4 separate regions of the Homo sapiens genome follow, and all the other regions are reported to be linked to region 2. The links are microRNA targets in miRTarBase. Many come from high-throughput screens and were not tested one by one. Region 2 holds a microRNA gene; each other region holds the end of a gene's coding sequence. Distances are between the middles of the regions.

Region 1 (4,057 bases), not on the chromosome of region 2:
GACTTCAGGTGTTTTCTGGAAGGTGTATTTTATCTAATGACTTAGCTTTGCTTTTGTCGCTCCATTCTTTTCCCTCTGAGCTCCAGGAGCAAAGTAGTTTTAGGGTCTTTCTTTTATTTTCATTCAAAACATCTCTTCTTACTCTAGTGATATCATCCCTGGAAGACTGAGAAGTCAGAAGAGGTGAATCACGTGTCACCTTCACATCTCTTCTAGAATTACATCAGTCAGAGCTCTGAGGTGCAGTGGGGATCGATGCCAAAAAGCAGAGGGGAGGAAGGAGAGATGGGGAGGGCACAGACGGAGGAGGAAGGGAGCTGGCTCTTTCCAGCCTGCTTATTTTCTTCTTCCTCCTCCTCAACCTTCAAGCCCCCCTTCCTATTTATAAATCACATGAGAGGAAATATCAGACTTTAAAGAGATGGCTGCTTTATATTTATTGATGGTGTTGGTTTCAACACTATTTGCCTGAACTTTTGGACCAACCACCACATGCCTGTCAGTCACAGATGAAAGCCAACATTGGCATTCTCACAGGACACTTAAACTAGATAAGAATGAAGACACACAGACCCTGCCCTGTCTCCCAAGTATTAGCCATATTATCTTCACTCTGTCTCATCTCTTCATCAGTTTCAAACAGCAGAGGAACTTGGCTATGCATGGGAATAATTTCAAATGTGAAATCTAGTCACGCAGGCTAGTGATGGCCCACACAGCCGTCTGCTTATCAGGTGAGCACACTGGTGTGGAAGGGCTGGGATGGGTGGCTGGGCTGAGACTGGACTTTCCTGACCTCTCTCTAGCTGGGGTTTTTAATGTCATTCAATGATGTGTATCTGAGGTATTCAGGGAGAGGGATCGGGACGCACAACCAAGCCAAAATATAATAGATTCAAAGGCCTGGACGTCCTAAGGCCCTTAAGACTGAATTTTTTTTAAATGTTTTCCACTCAGCTGGGTACAGTGGCTCACGCCTGTAATGCCAGCACTTTGGTAGGCTAAGGTGGGCAGATCACCTGAGGTCGGGAGTTTGAAACCAGCCTGACCAACATGGAGAAACCCCATCTCTACTAAAAATACAAAATTAGCCCGGCGTGGTGGCGCATGCCTGTAATCCCAGCTACTTGGGAGGCTGAGGCAGGAGAATCGCTTGAACCCGGGAGGTGGAGGTTGCGGTGAGCTGAGATTGCACCATTGCACTCCAGCCTGGGTGACAAGAGTGAAACTCCGTCTCAAAAAAAAAAAAAAAATATATATATATATACACACACACACACACACACACACACACACACATATTTTCCACTCGCCCCCTTTGCTTTTCTTTTTTAAAGATAGTTCTATGCCTGAACCATTCCTGTTAATTAGGAAGAAAATCTTTCACCCCTCTTTCCTCTATGGTTCCAGTGAATTCCAGACTCCTTAGGATTTCTGGGTCTAGCTGCTCAGAACATATTTATGATGAAAACAAAGCAAAGTGGCCTCAGGACACCAGGGAAGGCCAGGAGTGAGATCCATTTCTGCAACACAGGAAGAGAGGCCTCAAGGGGCAAAAGGAAAATATAATTTGCAGAAGGCACAGTTTTGGCAGCATCTTATTACAACTTCCAGCTGATCGGGTGTAGCCAAACTAGAGACATCTGTTTGGAGTTTACAACAGAAACAAACACACAGAAAGCATGAAAGCGCTGAAACATGCACACCCATACCGCGCTCTAACAGCTCCTCTCCCCCTCGACCTTCGCGCCATCCCCCAACTGGGTCACACTGGGTTGTAGAAGGGAAGGAAATGGGCTCTGCAGCCTGCCCAGCCACCCACCCACCTGCACCGTGACTCACTCACACCAGGATCGGAACTTGTCAACTTTTCTCTCCTTGGTTTTCCTCCCAGGAAAAACAGAGATGGCCCCACTCCTCAGAGAACTCCTCTTTGGGTTTCTAGTTCATCTTTAAAGCTCCCTGAGCTGTTTGTAAAGGAAAAGATAAGGTAGTCTCCTTACGCTTGATTATTAGCATGGCCCACAGAAGGAGGTAGTAAAATCTCAGCAGATCTGGAAGTCACTCCTCCATAAATAACCTCACAGGTCTGGGAGTGCGATATGGAACTCACCGTGGCCTCTCCAAAAGACCAGAAAAAGATCACACAACTTAATTACTGAAAAATACAGGATAATACAAGAAAAGGCTGGTCCCAGACACAGCACCCAGAGTTGTGGAGGTCCAGGAAGGCCCCAGATGGCGCATAAAGTGGACCTTCCTTCCCTAATTCTCTCCAAGCACAGGAAAGGCCAAAGACTGTCTTATGACACCATCCCAGGGTCAGACACAGCCTCTCCCACCCCAACGCAGCAGTTCCAGACGCTCACCTGTTCTGTTAAATTTTCCTCTTTATTCTCTCCCCACTGGCGTGCAAACAGAACCAGAACAGTGCTACTTTTAAAAAATAACAAAATGTTTTATACACATTTCTGTATATACAACTGAACAACATTTTACATGTTTCTTTTGCACAGCAAAAGATATAAACATTCAGCTCTGAGAACACAGTTATGTACAGAAAAAAGTCAAAAATACTTCACAACAGTGCAAAAATATTTTACACAGTATCATGGAGTGAGATCTTTTGAGCAAGAGGAAGGGTGTGTGTGTTTCTAAAGGAAAACTCCTTTTTAAGATATTGGATGTCTTTAACTGTAAACAAAACGCGACTCTCTTTCATCTCCCCCCACCCCCCAAACAGTTATTTGAAGAATTTGGCAACATTTCAGGGGTCTGAGTCTGAGGTAAACAGCCAGAATTCTTGCACCAAAAAGAACCAAGGGCTAAAGGGTTGCATTAAAGCCTCAAACACCTTGAGAGCAAATTTTTTTTTTTTTTTAATGAGATGTCAGTGACAGCGCAGGGCCGCTCCCAGGGGGTGGGAGGAGGAAGTGAACCCCTCCTCCTCAGGCCCCAGCTGCCCCACAAACAGGAAACTGGCCAGGCACCTACGGCCTGAGACTAGGAACTTCAGCCAACCTTCCCTCACCCGCATCCCAGAGGGGTGCCTCTCTCTCCCTCCTGGCGGGGTTTTCCCCTCTCAAATCTCCCCGCATCCCCACGCGCAACAGAGCCAAAAGTGCTGGGGCGGGAGCGGGGGCCGGGAGGTAGGGGAAAGCGGTCGGGGGAACGCTGGACCTGGGCTCCAAGTGTAGGTCTGGGCCCCAAATGCCCCATTTCCCCCTTCCTGGGGGCGGGCAAGGGACAGGGAGGTTGTCGGGACCACGGATGGGTAGCCACGGTGGAGCGCCGGCGACGCGCGGAGGAGCTCAGCCCGAGTGGGGCTCGTCTGCACTGGCGCCGTCGGCCTGGCGGGACGAGTCCCCGGCGGTGGCGGAGGTGGCGTCAGGGCCCCCGCCCTCGATGGAGCTCTCGCTGCCCGTGCTGTCGCCTGACAGCAGGCGCGTCACCCGCAAGTCGGCCTGCAGGGTGCGCACGTCGTTGCCGAAGCTGAGCTCGCCCAGGTCGCTAATAAGTTGCGACAGCTCAGCCTTCATGTCGGAGGCGCTGCCCAGCAGCAGAGGCGGCGGCCCGGCCCCCGGGCCCAGGGAGCCCCCGCCGCCTCCTAGCGCCTCCCCACGGCCATTCTCCAGAGTATCCAACAAGTCCCCGCACTCAAAGTGCATGGCGACCACTAGCGCACGCTGCGCCTCGGCCTCCTCCTCTGCTGGATCTCCCTCTGCCGCACGGTTCTCCTCCTCCTCCGGGCAGCCCTCGGGTTGCTCCTCTTCCTCTTCCTCCTGCAGCTCCTGCTCCAGCTGTTCGCCGAGCAGGTCCTCGGTGATGGAGCCAAGCTTGGGCGCGCTGCGGCTGCGCTCCACCGGCGGTTTATAGCAGCAGGGTCCGTGTAGGAGCAGCTTGCGCAGCGGCACTAGCGGGATGGTGTGTGCGCCCACCAGCTCCTGCTGCTGGTGACGCGCGTCGTCCCGCCGCTTGAGGCGTTTAAATTCCGCCAGCGCGTTGGCCGACGTCTGGTAGAGCAGCAGGGCCATGGCCTGCGCCTTTTCGGGCTTGG
Region 2 (4,067 bases):
CACAGTGTTTCTTTCACATAGGCTGCTACATTGATTCCATAAGCTCAACAATTTTAATAAAAAATATTTCTGCTAAATACTTTATATTCATCATCATAAAAAATGCACAGCCATTTGAAAAAAGGGCAATTACCCTAAATGAATATTGCCAAAGCACAGATCAACTTTATATAGGATTTCTTTCCTTGTTTCTGAAAAATCGCAAACAGAACTGGCAGACTTTATTTAACAAACATTGATTTTGTCCAGGCATGGAGTTTAAATTTTAGTGCATGTGCTGGAGGCAGGGAGAAGTGATGCGAGAAAGTAAAGCAACGACAGGTCATGCGGGGACCAGTGCTACAAAGAAACTAAAGCCAGGGGAAGGGTTGGGGAGGCATGGAGTGGGGTAGGACTACTAAATTTAGACAGAATGGGGTGCTAGAAAAGGTTGACTATGCTGTGGTAACAAATTAGCCCCTGAACCCCAGCGGTGTAGCATAAGTTTATCTCTTACCCACATTCTACGTCCACCACAGGTCACCAGTGGCTGTGCTCTAGTCATTCAGGGACACAGCTGGATGGAGGCTGCACCATCTGAGACACGGGGCACCTCCCTAGTCCTGCCAGAGCCGCAGTAGCAGTGGACCAGAGCTGGAAAGTCACACATGGAGCCTTAAAGTCTTTAAGCAATAAGCCACAACTAGTACCATGGCCCCACCTACTGCAAGAGGGCTGAGAAATGGGAGGAGTTCATAGCATGAGCAATCAATAACTGTCACTGATATCCAGGGAAGTCGTCTCTGACACAGGGAAATCTAAGCAAAGACCAACTAAAGAAAGAAGCTACACAGAAAGTTGGAGACAGGATGATGTCATTTATGATTCCAAGAAATATTCTGTTTGTCTGCCATTTGTTTCCAGTGAACAACCACATCAAATCTTTAATTTAGATATTTTGATAATTAAATGCATTAAAAATCTGTCTCTATTTCTATGCTTAGTTCAAGTAATAGCTTACCTCAGTGATTTTAACAGTCTTACATACCATATAGTATCACTGCCCTTACATTACATCCTTCAATAATTATCCCCTCCCGAGTAAAATCATAATACAAGGGCTGACAAACTCATTCTTGATTGACACACATCTCGACTCCTCACTCATTTCTTCTCCACATATTATTATTTTCTCATTACTTACCTAAAATTTAACCTTATAGATAATGAAAAGGGTTCTGAACATTAAGAAATAATAGAATAGTTATAAATGGAGGAAAAAGTTTGAATAAAAAAGTTTCTTAAAAGGATAGTGTCACTTGCAAAAATAGCTCTTTGAAATACAGGTTCCTATAAACATTTTACACGCATTAAGATATTACTCTTACACATACTGGTAACACAGACACTATACATATTTGTCTCCATTTTAGGAAGAAATGAAGCAAGGCTATTTTTAATAATAAACTTAGAAACAATTCATAACCCCTAGTATTTGCATTAACCTGCAAATACTAGGCAGCACACCACAGCAGAGTGTAACTAAAACCTAAAATAGTGTTTCACTTTCTTCCACACCTACCTCTGTGCGCTCATGCAAGTGTTTTTATTTTGCTTTGCATTAGATGCTTCTGTAATACAGGCATCTGATTCACCCCACATAAAGCTGTTGTAAGTAATCAATGTGAGAAAGTCTACTTATTGTTAAGCATATTTGTATATTTTTTACTAGTTATTTCATACTTGCCCTGAAAGAATACACATTCAAAAAGCTTGAAATTAGGCAATGTCAGTCTCATCAAACAAAACCAGCATTGGAAGCGAATATTAACAAATATCAGAATGAAATTACAAAATATACATCTCCAGCCTCATAAAACATGAATTTTATAAGCACTTTCATAAACATAAGAAAAATAGCTTTGACAATAACTATTTGAAAACATTATTATTAATAATCTTGTATACTGTACATGTGCACTTAAATGTAATAGCACCAACATTCATTATATTATGAAGGGGATACTTTATAAGAATTATAAATTATTTTTACATGATTAAATAATTTTGGCAGAGTAAGTCCGCAGGACTTAAATAACCAGTCAGCCTTAGTATCTACATCTGGACCAGGAAGCCTTTGTGTTACAGACACAGATTCCCTGTGAAGTTCTCCAGGGTGTAAAGAAGGCCCCAGGGAGGTGCCGACGGGATGTGAGGGCTGCCTTTCAGCTCAGGCGAGCCTGCAAGCAACAGGGCAGTTTGGGAAGGGTCACAGGCACAGGAAGGGAGCAGTGGGCAACCATTGATTACATCAAACCAGGATGGTTTCTTCTTTTTAAAGAAACTTTTGTTGAGTGTTTACCCACCCCCATCCACACAAATATGCTCTCTAGGAAATGTGAAAGTATAAGCTTCAGAAAAATGTTTTTCTCATCCTTTAATTTCTGGTTTTATGATCAAATGTTCCGAAGACACTGCTTCTTTTTGCTCAAAATAGTTGACATTGTCATTGCTTCTAGTTTTTCAGCTCCTACTATGCTTACTATGTCCATGGGTGCCATTGACGTCTTTGGCTATTTATCATCTCTAGAAAAGAAAAAAAAACATTAAAATTTTAGGATGTAGGATTCACAATAAATCTCTTACCAAATCCTCCTTAAATCCCTAAACTCTCTACCTGGCTCTGACTCCAGGATCACCCTTTCAGTTCTTTCCATGTTTTTCTTCGGAAAATGTAGTTTCCTAACCTTTCTACCCACCCTTCTCGTCTACTCTTAGGTCTGCAGCCACAGTGATAGTTCTAAGTTGCAAACCTGATCATGTCCTTCCAGTACTTAGTCTTTCAAAAATCTTCCTACTTCCCGCAGAGTGAAGCCTGAACTCTTTAATAGGCATCTAAGGACTTGGACCCGGATCCTGTTAACCTGTTAATTCATCTTTGCCTCTAACTCCCTCCCTTCATCTTTCAAGGCACAGCGCAGGACTTAACTCATTGTGAAAGTACTAAGCCTTGATGTATCTTTAGGAAAAACACACGTATACACACACACGCATGCAAAGAGAGGAAGCATAGCTTAGTGGTTAACCTACATAGACTGCAACTTGCTTAAATAATCCAGTATTTATCTATGTTTTAATAAAATTGTTTTAATAAAAATATATGAAATTCATCTATCTTTTCTCTGGAATGCTTTTGCCTGTTCAAAGATTATACAATGCTCCCGTATGTTACAGAGGAAGCCGTCCCTTCATTTATAAAAGACAGTTAACACATAGCACAAAAACTCTAGAGTAGGATGGATCCGCAACTACTGTACTGGAAATATGCTAAATTAGGGTTCTGATTAGAGTTAATGGAATTAACTTGGGTGAGAGAAAATACTCACCATTAATCTAGGGGTAACAGAGGAGTTAAACTCCAATTCAGAAACAGAGCAGTTCAAAATCAGAATCTAGAGTCAGCCTACATGGGCTTGATCTGGGAATGTGCCCTTTATTAGACGTGTAACCTTGGGCTGCTGCTTGACTGAATAGGTCTTCGATTCCTCATGGAATGAATATAATAAGATCTGATGAATGCAATTAGACAGTGCCTGAAACAGTAGTCTTAAGTAGGTATTTTTGTTGTCCCACTTTTTGAGAAACAAAACCAAAGTCAATTCAATTAAAACTGCAGGTTTCTTGATTTCATCCTAATACTTTGCAAATTAATCACAGAACCCAAGTGAAATTGCCTAGACTCTCAAAGAGTTCGAAAAACATTTCTAATACACTCAAAATTTTCCTAGTTGACGTTCACAGATTATCAAGAGTAAAGCACCTTCATACAGTTTTGATCCTCACACTGTCTAAATCTGAGGAGCTGTCAGGAAAGACATGTAAGGAGAGATCTAAGCTAAAACTCAAACCACACATGAGGCTTTTCAACTGTGACCAACTTGTAGTTAAAATTCAGTTTATGCTTTTCTGTCCACCTAAGAGCAAATTAAACCTTTAAGAAAGCAAAGGATAAAATCATTGTTAGCTCAAGCATTAAAAAAGAAAATAACTGAATATATCTTCTTCAACTCTCCACCCCTAGGGATGAG
Region 3 (4,057 bases), 140 Mb from region 2:
GCGCCATTGCACTCTAGCCTGGGCAACAAGAGCAAAACTCCATCTCAAAAAAAAAAAAAAAAAAAAAAGGCAGAAATAGGAATCCAGATCTAAGAAATATGTAGCAATCAGAAAGAGGCAAGTCAAGGAGGAATAAAACAGACAAGACTTCAACACGGAGGCAGGGTGGGGAAAGCCCACAGTGCATCCACTTGGCTATGCTGCTATGAGATCTCAAGGTACCTCTCCAGAGCATCAACAAGGCAGGTCAGCAGTCATGAAGTGACCATAATGTTCCATATACAATACGAATAGGCAGACAAAGACTCTAAACACCAGAGCTGCAGTTATTTCAATTCAGGTTTTATTAAAGTTGTTTCTGAATATTTTTTCTCAGTGATCCTTGTTCTGATGAATATTACATTTCATCCTTAGTTTTGCTCATTTGATTTTGCTTTAGTGTTTAAAGAACTTTTATTTATCAAATCCTTTGCCATGAATGAGAGCACCAAATAACATATCAATACCCAACTGCCTGATTCCTTTACAGCAGTAAGAAAAGTCAGTAAAACATTTGTACAGTCCAAGTACTACAACACCAAGATCCCCTCTTCAAGTGAGAGTGAGCCAAAGCTTCCTTAGTATCATCTCAAGTCAATGTCTTTTCACTATACCATTAAGATGAAAATAACTAAGAGCACTGACACAATTTTCTTGCTCTTTCCATCTAAAAATGTGGGTTTCCTGTGGTGTGGCTAATTTTAAAAACCAGAAAATGGAAGGAAAATAAGTCAGTGAATGATTAGCTTACAAGTTTTTTCTACTCATCATTAACCAGTCTTCCCTTTTCCCTAGACTTTAGACAGCCATAAAAAGGCAGGAAAAACAATGTGCATAATAAAAAAATAAAAATAAATATCTGAGCACCTACTGTAGTAGGCATTTAACACATTTCACTTAATCCTCACAACGCTGTGAAAGAATTATTATAATCATTTTACGAATAAAGAAACAGGCTCAGAAGGGTGAAATCACTGGTGCCTAAAGTCCTGCAGGTGACTGAGCTGAGATTTAAGTTCAAGCCTATGCTCTAATATGCTGCTTTGGCTCCCCAAAGCCCTTCAGCTTGAGATTCTTACTACTATAGCTTCATCTTCTAATTCTAAATTTACACTTTTAAGTCTGCAAAACTACTGAATAACAAAAGAACCTAAAATTATTCTGAATTTACTTGCCAAAACGGGAGGTGTAATAGACCATTAGAAAATTCTTCTAGCCTGGACAATATAGTGAGACCCCGCCTGTAAAAAACAACCAACCAACCAAAAAAAAAAAACCAAAAACCAAAAACCAAAAACCAAAAAACAAAACTAGCCAGTCATGGTGGTGCACTTGCCTGTGGTCCTGGCTACTTGGTAGGCTGAGGTGGGAGGATCACTTGAGCTCATTAGGTAGAGACATCTCTTTAGGTAATCATAACATTCCATACCTAAAATTATTGTTAATTGTAATTAATGTTAATTCTAACTGGTAATGATAGCTAGCAATAAAAAAACACACAGAGAGTAATTACAATCAGCTCATTTTCTTATTGTCACCATCTGTCAAATCTCACAGAATGGAAGGCAAAAAAAGACAACTTCCTATTGTGAACCTTGATTGTTCATTAAATTTACAATATATACTTAGTGGAATGCCAAAAGATGTTCTGGTTTTACAAGCTTAACCACCAGTCTTTTGATTGCATTTTAAAAGTGCATATTTACTTGTTTTTTAAGGGTCTAAATCTGATGAAGATGGTAAGGCCCACAAGGAGATGGCTTTATTGATAAGTTTGTGTGCTGTCTTAGAATTATCTATAATGTATAAGAGGTTAACTTTCCACCACTCCACTGAATGTCATAGAGTTCCAGTGGAAAATGAATTTTATTTTATTTTATAACTTCAACCTAAACCTATATAATCTAGACATCCAACAACATCTGATTGTCTGCTGGAGACTTCATTGCATGCCCATTAATCTTAAATGGAGACTTAATTGCATGCCCATTAATCTTAAATGATTGACATTAATATCTAGTTGTTCTTCATTCATACTCTCACTGGAATTTAGTCAATAGTTTAGAGATTATTTTCCTTGTGTCCAGTCCTAAAAAGACTAGATTTTCATACTTCAGAAGCAGAAAGGGTGAGATTTGATCATTAAGGCCTCTTCCAACATTAAAATATCCATAATTGACTGCCTTCCTAAAATCTGACTGATGTATCATTCATTAAGTCGTTTATTGGACAAATCTTTTACAGAACACCAGCTATAAGACTGAAAAAAAACCACATAGGCCCATTAATTCTAGAGGTTAATATATAAAAGGTGAGCTCAATGTTTACACAGATGTGACTTAACAGATACAAAGAATAGGAAATAGAGCTTGTCAATATAACAGAGGTAGTGATTTGTGAGTACCAACTTAAAAAAAAAAACAACAAAAAAACTTTGCGGGCGCAGTGGTGAACGCCTGTAGTCCTAGCTACTTGGCAGGCTGAGGCAGGATTGCTTGGGCCCAGGAGTTGGAGGTCAGCCTGGGCAACACAGGAAAAAAAAAAAAAATTGCCAAGAGGAGAGAATACTTATGTTAAGTGTTCTTATCGCAAAAAGTAACATAAATAGAGCCAGAGGAAACTTAAAAAAAAATTCAGCATTAACTATTAATAAATGAAATGAGAAATCATGGGAACCTAACACTTTTGTCCTGATCACCACCTCCCATCATTTAATAAAGGATTATAAGGTAAAATTGACAAAAGGGCAGAGGAGTAAAGGCTGGTGGAATAAGTTGTAGGTAAATTACCCAAATAGAGCCATCTGGGTCATTAGCTGTTAGTGTTGCCTCAGTTTGCCTGAAATGATTATATGACAAGGAGGCTGAAAATAATTTGAAGAGCAAAGACAGCACAAGGCTTTTTGGCCATTCTTGCTTGAAAGGGTCCTGGGTATCTCAAATTTCGATGCTCCTTGCCTTCCAAGTCTCATCTAGACCTTTAGCCCCTGCAAATGGGGATGAGAAAGGGGTGGGTATGGGACAATGATGTGAGCATAAAGCCTATCTAGTTGGGATTACAAGAACAAAAGATGGCTAAAAGGAAAAAAACAAAACAAAAGGTAAAGTCCTGAAAATCTATGTGTATAAAAATCAATCCAAATGATCTAAATTTATACGACCACGAAGCTTTATCCTCTAAGTACCCAAATGTTGAACCAATCCCTACCATCTCCTTTTTCCACAAAATACAAGATACTACACAATTCCTGTTATAGAGACCGCTAGGAAGAAACATGTAGTTGAAAACCCATAGTTAAAAGGATTTTGGATTCAAATTTATCACAGTACCAATTTTCCTAAACATGTTTTGATAAAGGCCATTGGAACACCTGTCACACTGTTCAAATGCCCAATGGTAAGACTTCTGATGAGACCAAACAGGTCACATTAAATCAATAGAATATCTTAGAAATAAAGCCAATATGACTAAATCCAAAACATATCACATGAAGTACCTCATGTACAATACAAACCTAGTTTAATAAATAAAAGAAACATAGGTGACTGCGCTCTGGGAGAACATCCAGTTCCTGATGGCCTCTTCACAGTCTTCTCTGAGACTCCACTGCCACTTCCACTCGGGCAAGCCTAATGGTGCGGCCATGAAGTTTGTAGCCATCTTGTCTTACTAATGCCACGGTGCCAGGCTGCACCCCAACACCAGCTGGCACATGACAGATGAGTTCATGCTCATGGGGGTCATATTTGTCACCAATGGGTGTCAGTTTCTCCAGGCCATGCTTGGCAAACACACTTTTCAGCTTTGCTTCTAAAAGCAACAACCCTCGGAAGACCTTCTCCAGAGTGAGCTTTTGGTCCTCAGGCTCCGATTCTTCAGAAATGCACTCTGTAGTCTTCTCCAAAATGTCAGCCACCTCCACCAAGTCCTTACAGAAACTCTGGATTCCTGCAGAGAAGCCAGTTATTTTTATTGTTTGTGAGGAAATCACTCTGCCCGTGGGCATAGAGTTTGGGTA
Region 4 (4,057 bases), not on the chromosome of region 2:
TACTACCGTAGACTGTGGGGGGTCAGGCTGCCTGAATATTTCATAAAGTTATCAAACACATTTGCAGAATCCAAAGAGCTTTTGTATGAGCTAGAATACTGTCATTCCATCTGACAGACCACATTAGAATATTTGATAGGTTAAAAAAATGGAAGTGGTACAAACTAAGAAAATGCTAAAGTTCTGTTCATTTAGAACAGACTTAAGAGAGGAACCTAACAGTACAGCTCCACACTGAACTGTTTTCTCTTATTCTTACTAATGGTATCTAAGCTTTGGTTTACTCATTAGTTCAGTATGTTAATGCTAAAGTTAGTAATCCCTTAGACTTTAGTTTCCAGCTTTAACTTTTAAGACTAATTGTTTTTATTGTGCATATGTAAAATGGGATGCCTGTGAATTTAAAAAATTATTTTCATTTCTAAAAACATTAATAATCAACACGGTGATCAATACTGGGACAGAATACAGTGGGATTTTAAAAAAAAACACAATAATATTGAAACACTTCTAATGATAAGAGTGACTTCCAATAAAATCTAACATAACTTTATAAGGGGCCATTCCAGTTCTTAAAACTCTAATTAGACATAAAGCAAAATATTATTTAAAATTCCATTTTCTGACAGGATCAGAGTAAAAAAATCACTATGTGTCCTTGAGAACAGAAATAATAAAGTGACAGTTAAATATTACTATCAACAAAAAAATCTAGCTTTTACTATTTTTATAGATTTATCACTTATTTAAGTTAAAAATTAGTAAGAAGACTTGAAAAAGGCAATTTCTAGATTTATAGTAACTGTTCTATAATACAGCTTCAAAATAAGAACATGTACTTACATAAATATACTTAGCATACAGTTCTTTAAAGAATGTTGAAATGTTAATAGTGAGATCAATCAATGACAAGAAACTGTATCTTCCTCAGGAAAAAGAAACTAACCACTATACAATAAAGGCAATGACTGGAAACCCTAAATTACGTTTTGTTGTCAACAAAGTCAATTTAATTTAATAATTTAACTTTTCCACAGAATTAATCACTATTACTTCCATACCAAAGAGGTATCGGGGAAAGAGTAGATCTATGAGGATTTAAAATTATTTCCTATCTACTTCTTACTTTTAAGTTGTGGTGATTCATGGCTGTGATAAAGATTGTAATTTTCAAGAAACATACAAAAAATCCATGTTAAATAACAACAGTGGACCTTGAAGGCATGAGCTTTTGTCACTTTATTGTTAACCAATGAATATTATCCAAAATTAGAGATGTAATTGTAACTTAATTGTACAACACAAAATTATGCTAATGGTAAAAGCCTACTGGGATTTACCAAATACTCATTAGTGTATTTTTACATTGACTATATGAACATGTGCTCGCGACTGCTAATAAGTTATAATTGGTTTAATCTCTAAGAAATCCATATTGCAAATGGTTCTTGTTTAGAAAAATTCACACAGCCTTAAAAATGGATTAAATCCATTTTAATCCTAATCTACAAATAGATCATAAACAGCAAAATATAACTGATAATTTTTCAATACTGTATCAAACTGATGTAGCTATGGTAGTGCACATAATTCAAAATGAGGAAAATTAACAAAAATCCAATGAAAGTTCAGGTTTTTATCTATTATGCAATTGCTTTAAAGTGAACATTTATGTCTCAAAACATGAATAGTAGGGTCCACCATCCATTCCTTTGATGTACTGCAAGTAGGAATATTCTCTTCCATAGGATTCTGAAGCATGTGCACAACCATGGTACAACAGTCACTTCAAGGTTAACCAGCTATGTTTTGTCCTACAAAGTTCAAAAAATATATTAAACGCAACCTTTCTTTTACATAATGTCTGCCCAGATTAATCCTTTTAAAGTCAGCAAAATCAAAAAAGCACAAGAGATATTTTCAGACACAACTTGAATCTACTGTGCATGAAAATGTTTAATAAAATGGCAATTTTAATAGATAAATGTAAATTTGACTGTGTAATACCAAATGGAAAGTAGCTGAACCACACAGAGAAAACAAGGCTTTACGTATCTCCAAATTTAGCTGTTTTACAATAAACAAAGTATTAGAACATGTGAATATTAGAACCTCCTTCTAACTGGAAAGATTTCTTCAGTAAGCTATAACCGAAATTAATATAAACTAAAATTATAATTTCTAAAATAAGAATTAACAAACCAAATTTAAGTATTTTTAGTCAGAGATTGAAACAAAATAAGCACAGTGATCTAGAAACCAAATATACTGATTATGTAACTATCGTATCAAGGTACAGACATTCTTCACATGCTACAAGGTTAGCATTTCTCTCTCTCATACACACACAGAGTACACACACACACACACACACACACACACACAGTCTCTCTCTCATTCTCTCTCTCTCTTGCTCAGCCATACAACACCCCTCCAGGATGATAGTATACCAGTGAGGAGCTTACAATTTTAATACAAATCAGAATCCCACAGTTTGACTCGACAAAAAGGCAGTTAAAAATTTAGCACTCTTAAGATATTCTGAAGGAAAATGAAATTTCGAAAGTATTTCTTGATGATCGAGGCTATGGTTATGAATTATAAAACATATACCTTACACACTCCATTGTGTTTGAACAACCAGTCATCACAGATGTAGTAGTGAGGTAGTATTGTTGTCCCCTCCTCGGGACTGATGTTTTTATATGCTGCCCTTCCAGAAAAGGTCCAGGTTTTAAAAAATAACATTAGTTACCAACAAATGTATATTTTCTTTTTTTAACTAATCATTTGTTTTTCTAAATCAGTCTATAAAAGAACAAAACTTTTAAAATCTTGCAGAGGCTGTTTCATCAGTAAACTCTCCTAGGGAGCTACTACTGCTGTCTAAACCTCTGTGAAATGGTAGGCAAAAAAAGCCATCAAAGGATCACAGGAGATAAAACACCAATCAGTGTAAGCTGTTAAAGATGACTGTGATTAAATAACCAAATATCAAATATCCAATAAGGTAATTAAATTTAGATTAAAAAAAAACTAAGCACCAGCTGTACATACATTATTAAATGTTCTAATCTCTTTCCTGATTCATAGCCATATTCTACATGATGATCAAAGACTGTCCACTGTGCTACCTACCATCATTTTAAACACTGCCTGATCTGTATGATGGTGGAATTATGGCTATGGACATGGCAGATAAGAGAAGGGCACACTGAGAAAATGTGAGTGAGAGAGAATGTGGAAATAGGTTAAATATGGAAAGGGCAAGGGAAACCCATTAAAATGTTCACCATTATCCTTTAAAATGTACACAGAACTGAAACCACACATACACATTTGTCAGACGTGATAATTAGTGTTAATCTTCAACAGAAAAAAAAAAGAAAAAGAAAAAAAATGTGAAAAGAGGCAATGGAACACCATTCTCCATTCCCTGGACCAAAAGAAAAAAGAAAACCAAGCATGATATCATACTGCCTTAATGTTGAAGAGCTCCCCTTAAATTTGTCTTTTAGCTAGCACAGTCAAACTGGTGTAAGTGCTTTGGCAAGGTGGGATGCATTCCATCATATCTGCAAAGGCCTGCTTTTCTCTGTTGGTGGTTCAGCTTATGAAGAACATATATGCAAAATAACAGCTCTCACATTGCTTCAAACTCATCGATACGCTGCTTTGTATTGCCTTGTCGAATCTGTCGCAGAGTCTTGTACTTATCACGGCCTGCTTTAACATTCTCAGCATGAAGAACATCATTTTGTGTTTTCTTGGTTTCATCTCTGGCTTGGGCTAATTCTGAACTTAATGCCTATTTAAAAAATAAAAAGTACAACTATTATTTTTTTCTTAGATTTAAAAAAATTTATGAAAATGGCTTTAAGATGCAAAAATACATATACCAAATCATTTCCACTGTGAAACCTTTTTCTTTAGGTATAAGTTTGTTTTAGTAATAGTGGTGGCAGTGGTAAGGGAGGAATACACATGGCCTTTCCACATTTATCAACCATGGTATTTTGTACATTATTCTAAATTTCCTTAACTTTCTAATCTAATA

What was found. The annotated mature microRNA hsa-miR-4458 reads AGAGGUAGGUGUGGAAGAA and lies in region 2 at 1,547-1,565, opposite strand. An mRNA with a match to its seed (bases 2 to 7 or 8) in the 3' UTR can be bound and repressed. Matches are read on the target gene's strand: a 7mer-m8 pairs with bases 2 to 8, a 7mer-A1 pairs with bases 2 to 7 and ends in A, and an 8mer does both.
Region 1: miRTarBase lists FAM43A as a target of hsa-miR-4458. Seed matches in the 3' UTR shown: 7mer-m8 at 3,147-3,153 and 7mer-A1 at 2,783-2,789.
Region 3: the mRNA of GRPEL2 is a reported target of hsa-miR-4458. Seed matches in the 3' UTR shown: 7mer-m8 at 2,423-2,429.
Region 4: miRTarBase lists RDX as a target of hsa-miR-4458. Seed matches in the 3' UTR shown: 8mer at 2,663-2,670.

The regions. Positions count from the first base shown.
Region 1 is chr3:194,687,353-194,691,409 of GRCh38, reverse strand. It overlaps FAM43A (family with sequence similarity 43 member A), which reads right to left. Exons shown (of 1, transcript NM_153690.5): 1 at 2,373-4,057. The coding sequence ends at 3,312. Among named protein-coding and RNA genes, the nearest start is that of FAM43A, 3.5 kb to the right of the region's middle. RefSeq lists enhancers at 1,711-1,830, 3,677-4,057 and a silencer at 3,378-3,677.
Region 2 is chr5:8,458,431-8,462,497 of GRCh38, reverse strand. MIR4458 (microRNA 4458) reads right to left here and starts at 1,573; the gene lies at 1,499-1,573. It overlaps MIR4458HG (MIR4458 host gene), which reads right to left. Exons shown (of 2, transcript NR_039989.1): 2 at 1-2,565.
Region 3 is chr5:149,350,848-149,354,904 of GRCh38, reverse strand. GRPEL2 (GrpE like 2, mitochondrial) reads right to left here. Exons shown (of 4, transcript NM_152407.4): 4 at 322-3,987. The coding sequence ends at 3,623. The region is part of intron 1 of GRPEL2-AS1 (GRPEL2 antisense RNA 1); the gene reads left to right. Among named protein-coding and RNA genes, the nearest start is that of GRPEL2-AS1, 4.8 kb to the left of the region's middle.
Region 4 is chr11:110,228,226-110,232,282 of GRCh38, forward strand. It overlaps RDX (radixin), which reads right to left. Exons shown (of 14, transcript NM_002906.4): 14 at 1,216-3,808. The coding sequence ends at 3,644. Among named protein-coding and RNA genes, the nearest start is that of RDX, 66 kb to the right of the region's middle.